4 separate regions of the Homo sapiens genome follow, and all the other regions are linked to region 1. The links come from fine-mapping of genetic effects on gene expression. A gene starts in region 1. Each other region holds a variant in brackets. All regions are shown on one strand. Distances are from middle to middle.

The links. PIP is the estimated chance that this variant, and not a neighbour inherited with it, causes the effect.
Region 2: its variant is fine-mapped to the expression of ERMP1 in blood mononuclear cells (TOPMed, PIP 0.91).
Region 3: its variant is fine-mapped to the expression of ERMP1 in thyroid (GTEx, PIP above 0.99).
Region 4: its variant is fine-mapped to the expression of ERMP1 in whole blood (INTERVAL, PIP 0.97).

The regions. Positions count from the first base shown.
Region 1 is chr9:5,831,850-5,834,536 of GRCh38, reverse strand. It overlaps ERMP1 (endoplasmic reticulum metallopeptidase 1), which reads left to right and starts at 1,420. Exons shown (of 15, transcript NM_024896.3): 1 at 1,420-1,847. The coding sequence starts at 1,510. RefSeq lists silencers at 1,334-1,553, 1,634-1,853.
Region 2 is chr9:5,803,418-5,806,104 of GRCh38, reverse strand. ERMP1 (endoplasmic reticulum metallopeptidase 1) reads left to right here. Exons shown (of 15, transcript NM_024896.3): 9 at 320-494; 10 at 888-1,078. Among named protein-coding and RNA genes, the nearest start is that of ERMP1, 28 kb to the left of the region's middle. The variant A/G (reference allele first, on the strand shown) is at 1,422.
Region 3 is chr9:5,859,956-5,862,642 of GRCh38, reverse strand. It overlaps a transcript of ERMP1 not described here. Among named protein-coding and RNA genes, the nearest start is that of ERMP1, 28 kb to the right of the region's middle. The variant T/C (reference allele first, on the strand shown) is at 1,314.
Region 4 is chr9:5,875,396-5,878,082 of GRCh38, reverse strand. No RefSeq gene overlaps it. Among named protein-coding and RNA genes, the nearest start is that of MLANA, 14 kb to the left of the region's middle. The variant A/G (reference allele first, on the strand shown) is at 1,293.

The sequences.
Region 1 (2,687 bases):
TATGTTTTCATTTTTTCATTCACTCAAGAAATATCTATTGACTACATACTATGTGTCATGCTTTGTGTTAAGAGCAAGGAATAAAATGGTGAGTAAAACCAGACCTGATTCCTGCCTTCGTGGGGCTTACAGTCTAATGAGGAAGTTATGAAATAGTCACATGCAAACATGGTGCTGTGAGATCCTACAAATAGGGGAAGCAAGCTTAATTAAATTAGGAGATTCTTGCTTGAGGAAGTACCACTTAATCTGAGATTTAAAGGATAACTAGGAGTTAAAAAGACAATGAGGAGAGAGAAGAACACTCCAGGTAATTCAAACAGCATGTGAGAAGATCCTATTGTAGAAGGAAAGATGCGTGCAGGAAGTCTTTGAAAGAGGCCAGTGTGGCTGGAGAGCTGGAAATAAGAAGCATCCTGGTGTCAGAGGAGCCTGAGAGGTGGGCAAGAGCAGGACTATAGGGCATTGTATGAAATCTGACATATGTGCTAAGTCAAAATCCGGCAGTGTGCTCTCCCAGTTGGTCTCTAGGTTAATGCTCATGCTAATGTAGCAACTCCAAGCTAGGGACAAAAAACCTTGGAGCAGAGAGGCTCATGGGTACCGGCAAGCTGGAAGAAGACTAGATAATCACTAGGATCTGCACTGAAACCAAGGCTCTGCTGCTTAACCGCCCCAGAGAGTCGTCAAGTGAAGAATGGCCTTTCTGAACCTTCACTTGCAGAGTGCTAATGTAGTAGTGGAACAGAATGCTGTTTTGGGAGCCCATGAAATTAGATTTACATTCTTCATCTGTTATCTCTACGTTTCTCAGGTTATAAAATGGGAACAAAGATATTTCCTTTTAAGTATTGTTAAAGATAATTAAATAAGATGATGTATTAAAGGACTTGACCTAGCGCTTAGCTCATAGCAGGTATTCAATAAATAATAGCCATTATTTTTCTTTATCTGTTAAATGGAGACAGTAATAGCACAGATTAAGTTGCTGAGTTATGAAGATCTGATTAGATTATGCATGTGAAAGCAATAGGCCGGGCCTCCTCTGCGTAATCTTATTTCTAATTTTAAGAGCCAGGAACCCACTTTTTTGGAGCCTGATGTTCTAATATTCCTTCCTTACGAAAGCCAGGTCATTGCTTTTTTCATCTGCCTGATGCACTGTAAGAGCCTTGTGTGTTCTTTCAAAAGCGATCTCTCATTTTTCTCGTTTTGGGTTTTTAGGTGTCTTTACATTTGGCAATCTCCGTCCTACAGAGGGCTGGAAAAGCCCTGCGGGAGACGGCATATCCACCACCCGCTGCTGGGTCGGCCCTGCAGCTGTGTGCACCCGAGAACTGCCAAAGAAGCTGGGTCTTGGCGCGGCGGGACGGGCCAATCAGAAGAAGTTTGGCCCTCTGCAGTTTCCGTCCGCTCACTAGGAGGCGCTGCGGCAGCGACGGCGGCGTCGGCGGCGGCCGGGGCTGTCGCGGGTTGGGGCGGTTGGGCTGGCAGCTGAGGCTCGTGGCCATGGAGTGGGGTTCTGAGTCGGCTGCTGTGAGGCGGCACCGCGTCGGAGTAGAGCGTCGAGAGGGAGCGGCGGCCGCGCCACCGCCGGAGAGGGAGGCCCGAGCGCAGGAGCCTCTGGTGGATGGGTGCAGCGGCGGCGGGAGGACGCGGAAGAGGAGCCCCGGGGGTAGCGGCGGCGCGAGCAGGGGCGCGGGGACCGGGCTGTCTGAGGTGCGCGCCGCGCTGGGGCTCGCGCTCTACCTGATCGCGCTGCGGACGCTGGTGCAGCTCTCGCTGCAGCAGCTCGTGCTACGCGGGGCCGCTGGACACCGCGGGGAGTTCGACGCGCTCCAAGCCAGGTACCGGCCGCTCCCTCCTGGCACGGCCCGCGCGTCCGTTTGCGGCTCCTGCGCAGGCTCCGGGGCACCGCACCTGTGTGCACCCGCCCCTGCCGGACCGCTGGGACTCGCTGACCCCTCCCAGGCTGCACGTGGGGTGGGGTGACCTTGCTTGTCCTTCTTCTGGGGTCTGAATTGCCGGGACTTGGGGCTTGCCTGTCCCCGGTTAAGCTCGTGGTGCAGATTGGGGTTGCCAGGTAGATTGAACCTGCTTTCCACTGTCTGCCCTTCGTGCAGATGGTTGGTTGTGAGTCGTCTCCCCATATTCTGGAACAGCTTCCCCTTTTTACCTTGCTTAGCCCTTCTGCTTTCCAGATGGAAATTTGTGTACCTAGACTGTTGTATAAATTCGCTTTGGGGGCGGGGAGTTTTGGAAGGCGCTAGTGCACTGTTCTAACTTTCTGAGGGTTACAGCCCCCACATCTGAAGGCTATAGAAACTCTTTCTGGAACACCGCCCAGTCAAAATTTGGTATGCAGTCTGATAAATTCTCAGATCCCTGCAGTTTATCTTTAGGCCCCTTGGATTAGTGACTGTGTAAGGTTTGACTTTTTTTTTTTTTTTTAAGACCTTTAAGAATGCTAGGAAAGGTGATTAAGTCAAAGATATTGTAACCCAGGTGTGTCAAAGCTCATGAAGTGTTAAGCTGGCGTCAAGTTTTCAACAGCTACTGTGTTCTAAAAAGTTTTTGCTAGAATGCAAAGTGTTGCAAGCTTATTAAGGACTTTCTGAAACGTCTCCCACCCCCACTTCCAGCTTTCCCCACTTGGAATGCAGTGAAAAGACAAAAACAGTTTTGTT
Region 2 (2,687 bases), 28 kb after region 1:
AGATGATTGTTTTTTAGGAGAGTCCTTTCTTCTATTTTGGAAAATTTCTACTTTTAGCCTAGTAGAAGAAAAGCATAGAGTACATGGAGCATTTATACTCTATATTGTTAAAATGCCCTTTCTTGTGCTACATTTGAATTTACTACTTCATGATGGGGGAGGTAGCTTTGTTAGTGTTTACTTTAAATCAGTTTAAAGAGCAGACTGTGTTTAAAACAAAATGTAGCTTTCCTGAGTGATGGAAAGTGTGTTACTATAATAAAAGCTCTTTATGCATGACCCCTGAATGAGACTACTTGTATATTTTTCTTTCTTTCAGAATGCCAGTGCCCAGTATCTGGGAGAAGTATTTTTTGACATTTCGCTGTTTGTCCATTGCTGTTTTCTTGTTACCCTCACTTACCAAGGACTTTGCTCGGCGTTTATTAGTGCTGTCTGGGTAGCATTCCCATTGCTCACAAAGCTCTGTGTGCATAAGGACTTCAAGCAGCATGGTAGGGTATTTTTGATTTTGATATACATGGGAGAATACCTTAAAATACTTAAGGCTTTCAGGGACTCTTTCTTTTTTGGTTTTATTGGGTAGGCTTTCTAAATTGTTAGTTTTTAAAAGTTTTCATACCACACAAATTATCTTATGCCTTATACTCCATCCCTTTCTCATGTTTGTGAACACATACTAATATATTACTTGTGTATTTTGCTTTATTCTTATTTGTATTTTATCCTGAGTGAAAGATCCTACTCCAAGATAACATACACCCTTAAGGGCAAGAGTCACATCTAACCTAATTTCTGTTAGGGTACCAAGGCACACCAGTACTATAAAAATTTATATCTCACTGGAGGATTTCATAGATGTGTGCTTTTTTTCTCTTTTTCCCTAGGTGCCCAAGGAAAATTTATTGCTTTTTACCTTTTGGGGATGTTTATTCCTTATCTTTATGCATTGTACCTCATCTGGGCAGTATTTGAGATGTTTACCCCTATCCTCGGGAGAAGTGGTTCTGAAATCCCACCTGATGTTGTGCTGGCATCCATTTTGGCTGGCTGTACAATGATTCTCTCGTCCTATTTTGTAAGAGAAAATAAGTTTTTTTCTTTTTCTTCATTTTTTATATGAATATGAATTTAGCCATACTAGATTCTGTGAAATAGTGTTACGTGTACTTTATTGAGAAAATCTGAAGCAGAAGAAATGGTGAATGAATGGCCATGCATCTTGTAAATTTGGTATCGTAAGAAACTGTAGTATAGAGTTTGTTGTTGCTGTTTAAAAGTTTTTTGCCTCCCTATCCTTCCAAATTCTCTGATTTACCTCTTTTCAAATAGCCTGTCAGATACCTGAGTGTGAATTTGTAGAGCGTTTACCAAGTATTAATTGTTAGAGATTGCCTGGTGGTGAATGATCCTAATAGTAT[A/G]TTTTGAAATTACTAATTAGAGGCACATGTTAATAGATACATGGGTGGTTTTATTAGTGCTTTTAGAGCTAGTGAAGGAAGACTAAATCTGATGAGGCTTTTTTCATTATCATTCCACTACCTTGTTGCTACCACATGAAAGCTTGTTAATTGAGTCTGTTATGACACCCAAACGTGCCTTCATTTACCAAATAATGAAATGATCACAGGCCTTGTCAGTCCTCATTTTGCCGTATCAGTGTCCTGCCCTAGTAAGGAGAGTCCTGTGTTTGCCATCCCTTTTTTTCTTCCCTTGGGATTCCCAGAGGGAAGAAAAGACAGTGATGCAGAGTTTAAGACCAGACCCCCCTTGAGCAGAGTAAGCCCCAAGCAAGGTTTTGCTTTGGTTTGATGTCCACCTCCACGATCCAAGATGGGCCCCTCCAGAGAATGCAGGTCTCTTTTGGTGGGAATTCCTAAGAATAAAAAGTAATTATTGAACACTCAGAGGTGCACCTTGAAATTTGAGGATAGGGAACCAAACAGGAAAAGGAGCTATGATTTTATTATAGTTCTTTTCTTCATGGAGATGATAGTGAGCCTTTTCATACTGATATAGTAAAGGGCATTCGTTACCCCTTTACTTTGTGGAAGTTAGGTTCTAAAGACAGCAGGTAAGGAAAACACTACACACATGGTCAGCATCATCCGTGGAAGTCCCTTATAGCCAGTAAAGCTCTATATATGTGACTTTGTGTATATAGTCCTGTAGAGTAATTCTTATGCATATTATTGTTTGAGGTTGGTTGTACTAGTCTTAAAAGAGATCTGAGCCTTCCAACCATTTTACTTATAGGATAATTATTAAGGATAATATAAGGATAAGGATAATCCTTATTGGTATTCATAGGGCTGTATGAAAAGTTCTAAAATGTTCTTTGCTGCCTGTAGGGTTTGCTGCTTTTGAGTTTAATAGTAACCCTTATATCATCTGTATTTTTGATAGGTTTGCTGTTGTAAGGATTGAAGGAGACAGTGGACTTTTGTTATCTATAGATTAGGTTCTAATCTAATCTGAAGTCAACTAGTTATGAACTGAATGCCCCCACACCCCCGTTTATTTGTTAAATTATAGTCATGAATGGGAGCTATGGATGTCCATAAAAGATGACTCAGATAGGGGACATTTAAATTCTGTTCCACTGATAATATGAAAGGGGGCAAAATGAACCCTGGAGATGTTCATTGTGGAAATGGAAAATGTCCCCAAAGCATGGAAATCTTGGA
Region 3 (2,687 bases), 28 kb before region 1:
TGACACAGTGGCTCATGCCTGTAATCCCAGCATGTTAAGAGGCTTAGGCAAAAGGACAGCCTGAGGCCAGGACTTTAAGACCAGCCTTGGCAACACAGAGACTCCATCTCTACAAAAAATAAAAAGTACAAAAAATTAAAAAATTAGCTGGGCATGGTGGCACACACTTGTAGTCCTAGCTACTTGGGAGGCTGAGGTGAGAGGATCTCTTGAATCCAGGAGTTCGAGGCTGCAATAAGCTATGATTGCACCACTGCACTCCAGTGTGGATGACAGAGTGAGACTCTGTCTCTAAAATAAATAAATAAGTAGGTCAGGCATGGTGGCTCATGTCTGTAATCCCAGCACTTTGAGAGGCTGAGGCAGGAGGATCACCTGAGGCCAGGAGTTCAAGACCAGCCTGGACAACATAGGGGGATCCCATCTCTACAAAAATAATTTAAAAATTAACCAGGCATGGTGGCACACACCTGTGGTCCCAGCTACTTGGGAGGCTGAGGTGGGAGGATCACTTGGGCCCAGGAGGTAGAGGCCGCAGTGAGCCATGATTGTGTCACTGCGCTCCAGCTGGGGTGACAGAAGGAGACCCTGTCTCAATAAATAAATACATACATACATACATACTTTTTTTAAAAAAAAAATTAAAATGTGATTTTTTAAAAAACTTTAACTTTTAAAGGACTAGTGGTTGGATTGTGTCTAGAGGGACAGCCCCTGATTATCTGACCACTTTTGGTAACAGGAGGGACTACACTCAACTGGCCCCATGAAAAGAGAAGGGCCAGGAGCCATCTCCCCAGGGTGGCCTGGAGAAACAGAATGAGCAGTCCCCCTCCCCTGATGTTGCTGTTGCACCTGCTGAGATCCTTTGACCTTGGACTATTCTTTTTCTGGGCAGACCAAAAAAAAAAAAAAAAAAAAAAAACCCTTCCTCTCTTCTCTGGGGTCAACACTAGAGCTCTGCCTGCACTGGGAAGAGAGTGGAGCCCTAGGGCCCCTTACTGGCTTAGTACTTTCCATCTCCGTCTCTTGCCAGGTTTCCAGAGGCCCTGTCTTGTGCATCTAAGTCTACAGTTAACTGTCCACTTCTTAGTGAGAAAGGAATCTGCTTTTAGTGCCATCTGTAAAAGAAGACAAATAGGTCTTTAATCAAGATTGACACACATGGCTCCTGCTTTCTCCTTGTTAAAGGTGGTACTGAATACCTCAATAAAATAGTAAAAAAAAACCCAGCAAGTATGATTTTGAAAACTCAACCCTGTACCTTGAGTAGAAAGAGTGTAGAATATATTTCCTTAAATCTTACTTTTTTT[T/C]CACCCAAATTCAGCACAGCTAAGGCCAATGATGACATCCTGGGATAATACTTTGAGTTATTAACTGATTTTTTTTCCCTCTCCAGTACTTTACTTTTTCTTAGCTTTTACACACACACACACACACACACACACACACACACACACACACACACACACCCCCTAAGCCATTGTGGGTTCACTGCCTCTCAGAAATGCAGAAACATTTTGACAGAGAGCATAGCTTCTTACTAGATCCCTGTCTCAGTCCATTTTGTGTGGCTATAACAGAATACCACAGACTGGGAAATTACAATGAACAGAAATGTATGGGCTCATAGTACTGGAGGCTGGAACTCCAATATCAAGGTGCTGGCATCTGGTGAGGGCCTTCTTGCTACATTATCACATGACAGAAGGAGAGAGAGTGAGAGAGGGTGGAGGTGGGACAGTGAAATGACCCTTTTATAGGGAACCAGCCACCATAGTAATCCATTATCATGATTACTGGGAGACTGAGGCAGGAAGATCACTTGAGACCAGGAGTTTGAGACCAGCCTGGGCAACACAGGGAGACTGTCTCTACAGTTTTTTTTTAATGAGGCCAGATATGGTTGCTTATGCCTGTAATCCCAGCACTTTGGGATGCTGAGGCAGGAGGATTGCTTGAGGCCAGGAGTTCGAGGCCAGCCTGGGCAACAGAGTGAGACCCCCCGATCTCTACAAAAAAAAAAAAAATTGTGGACTGAAGTTGATAAAATTGTCCTTGCAACTTTCATGGCCACTAGAGAGAGAACATGTAGTATGTCACTTGCCATTGGTTACGTTATGAGCAATTGAGCCCATACGTTATGGCTCTGAGCTTCATTCATTTACTCACTTATCCATCCATATTTATATTAATGTACAGCTGGCCAGACACTGGAGACATAAAGATGAATGGAACAGAGCTCCTGCCCTCACTGTGCTTGCTGGCAGTAAACTTCATCCCTAAAATACTGACAGTGCATTTATCCCAGTTATAAATATAAATGCTTCCTTCCTTCTTTTTTTTTTTTTTGGAAACAGGGTCTGGCTGCAGACAGTGGCACAATTACAGCTTACTGCAACCTCTATTTCCTGGGCTCAAGCAATCCTCCTGACTCAGCCTCCCAAGTAGCTGGGACTACAGGTATGCACTACCACACCTGGCTAATTAAAACTTTTTTTTTTTTTTGGTAGAGACAAGGTCTCACTATACTGCCCCGGCTGGTCTCAAACTGGGCTCAAGCAATCCTCCAGTCTTAGCCTCTCAAAGTGCTGAAATTATAGACATAAGCCACTGTGCCTGACCAATGCTTTCTTAATAAACTTAAGTTGAGCTTATTTAGCATGTAAGAATTCTTTATTAAGATA
Region 4 (2,687 bases), 44 kb before region 1:
GATAAATAATTTCTAACAGAGGCATTGCCCAGATCCTTTCAACTAGTCCATAACATTTCTTGAGCTCCTATGATATGCCAAGGACTGGATTCAGTAGTCACCAAAGCTTGTTGAGTTGCTGTTTCCCTTTCTGAACCTCTAATAGTCTACATCACATGAACACATGTTTTCGAAGGCAGACCTTCTTCAGACAATACATGGACAGCCTTAGGCATAAATCCCTTTCCTGTATGAATTCCTCTATAGTAAAAATCATATTGATTGCTTAGGGAGGGGGATACTGAGTTAGTGGTTAAGGGTGTGAAGGATAACTCCTCAAATTAAAGAACTGCACGAACCCTTAACACTCAAAGGCTGGGAAGCATAGAAGGTATTTAATAAGTGCTTGTTGAATGAATGATGCAGACATGCATGAGGCAAGAATGAGGCAAGCTCTGGGCGCCAAAGACAGAGAGGGAGCAGCCACCTTTTTCTTAGTAGCTTGTTGAGGAAACTGCTTGCTGGCCCCTGCCCAAGCCCATGGTGTGGCCATTGTGCATTCTGCAGGGCACATAGTCTGATATGTGGGGTGCTCACAGTAGAAGCCACCTCACACCAAGAGACTCTGCGTGGGCCTTTCCCCTGAGAGATAACTTGAATGCGATGGTAAAATAGAAGCCAGGGGTTTAAGACCAATCTCTGCAGTTTATTAGCCCCTGGATAAGTTACCTAACCATTCTGAGCCTCAGTTTGCTCAACTGAGAAATGAAGATCGTAATTTTTAATTTAGAATTCTTCTTATTTTTTTAGGTCCTTCCAGATTGCAAAGAAGAGAGGCACACAAATGGTTGCTCAGATGAGGTAGATAAGTTAATTATTAGGAAGAACAGGACAATTTCATAACTGCTTCCTGGAGACCTGGGACAAGCCCCCTCTTCATTAAGGAGATGACTGTGGCTGGAATGGCTTTGCAGGATGCCCCCTGCTTGCTCCTTCTGATGCGTCTTGTTACCTCTTTATCACTCGCACACAGTCAAAGGAGCTGGCTAGGCCAATCGTCACTATCCGGGAAAGAGTGCCCCCACTGGGCAATGTTTCTGCACCAGGTCACCTCATGTCCATAGCTCTCTTTGACTCAGGAAGGGATCCCAGGTCCCGCCAGTTGCAGTCACAGCACTCACAGAACAGCTGAGTCACCTGGAGAGAACAGCCTAAGGCTAGTTTGGCTTTGAGAGTGTATTAGTTTCCTCTGGCTGCCGTAACAAAGTAACACAAATTGGGTGGCTTAAAACAACACACATTTACTGTGTCAC[A/G]GTTCTGGAGGCTAGAAGGCCACAGCGTGGTGTCAGCAGGGCCATGCTGTCTCTGAAATCTATAGGGGAGAATCCTTCCTTCTCTCCTGGCCTCTGCTGGTGCCTGGCAGTGCTGAGCATTCTATGGCTTGTGGGTGCATCACTCGAATTTGCACCTCCATTGTCACATGGCTGTCTTCTCCCTGTCTCTGTCCTCATGTGGCATTCTTCACTCTCTGTGTTTCTGTATCTTGTTATAACGACACCAGTCATATCAGATTACCTTACCCCAATAGGACCCCATCTTAATTACACCTACAACTACCCTAGTTCCAAATAAAGTCACATTCTGAGGTCCAGGGGGTTAGGACATCAACATATTTTGGTGGACACAATTCAACCCATAACAGAGGTTCACAAACTGTCCAGCACCTCTCCAGCAGAGCTGTGGTGAGTGTTACATGAGAGGCTACACATGCCTACCATGGTGTCACATAAAATAAAATTGTCTTCCTGTTCAATGGGTCTCAAAATGTAGTCCTCGACAGGCAGCAGCAACAGCCCCTAGGGACTGGTTAGAAAAACACACCCTCAGGCCCCACCCCAGACTTACTAAATCAGAAACTCAACCTTCAGTATTTTCACAAGCTCTGCAGGTAATTCCAACACAAGCTAAAGATTGAAAACCATGCAGTCTCTGACCTGGACAGAAGTACAAGCTGATAGAGAAAAGTCCCTGAAAAGTGAATCCCAACTGGGGAGCCCACCCACAGCTTCCCAGCAAAGCCATGAGAAAGATCCCACACCCAGGGCTTCTGCTCCCCCTGCCCCATGGCCCCTCTGAGCAGCCACTGCTTGCTGCCACAGACTCGCTGCTCCCTTGCTCATGGCCTCTCTTGCTGTTTCCTTTACTCCAGTTGAGAGTAAGCCTCCCTCCCTGAGATCTGTTTTTTAATTTAAAATTTTTTAGAGATAAGGTCTCACTCTGTCACCCAGGCTGGAGTGCAGTGGTGTGATCATAGCTCACTGCAACCTCAAACTTGTGGCCTCAAGCAATCCTCCGGCCTCAGCCTGCTGAGTCTCTGTGACTACAGGTATGCACCACCATGCTAGGCCTATTGGTTTTCAAAGATTTTGCAGAGAGGGGATCTCGCTATATTGTCCAGGCTGGTCTCAAACTCCTTTGCCTCAACCAACCCTCTTGTCTTGGTCTCTCAAAGTGTTGGAATCACAGGCATGAGCCACATGCCCAGCCCTTTCCTGAGATCCATACTTGGCTTGTGGCTAGATGAGACGCCATTTCATGGGCCTTTTCTCATCACAGACCTCCCTGAGCAGGTTTTGCCCTCCTCTAACTCCTCTCTCCACCCAGGGTAGGGGTGTTCCAGGCCCCACTCTCAAGCAGAAGTAACCCCC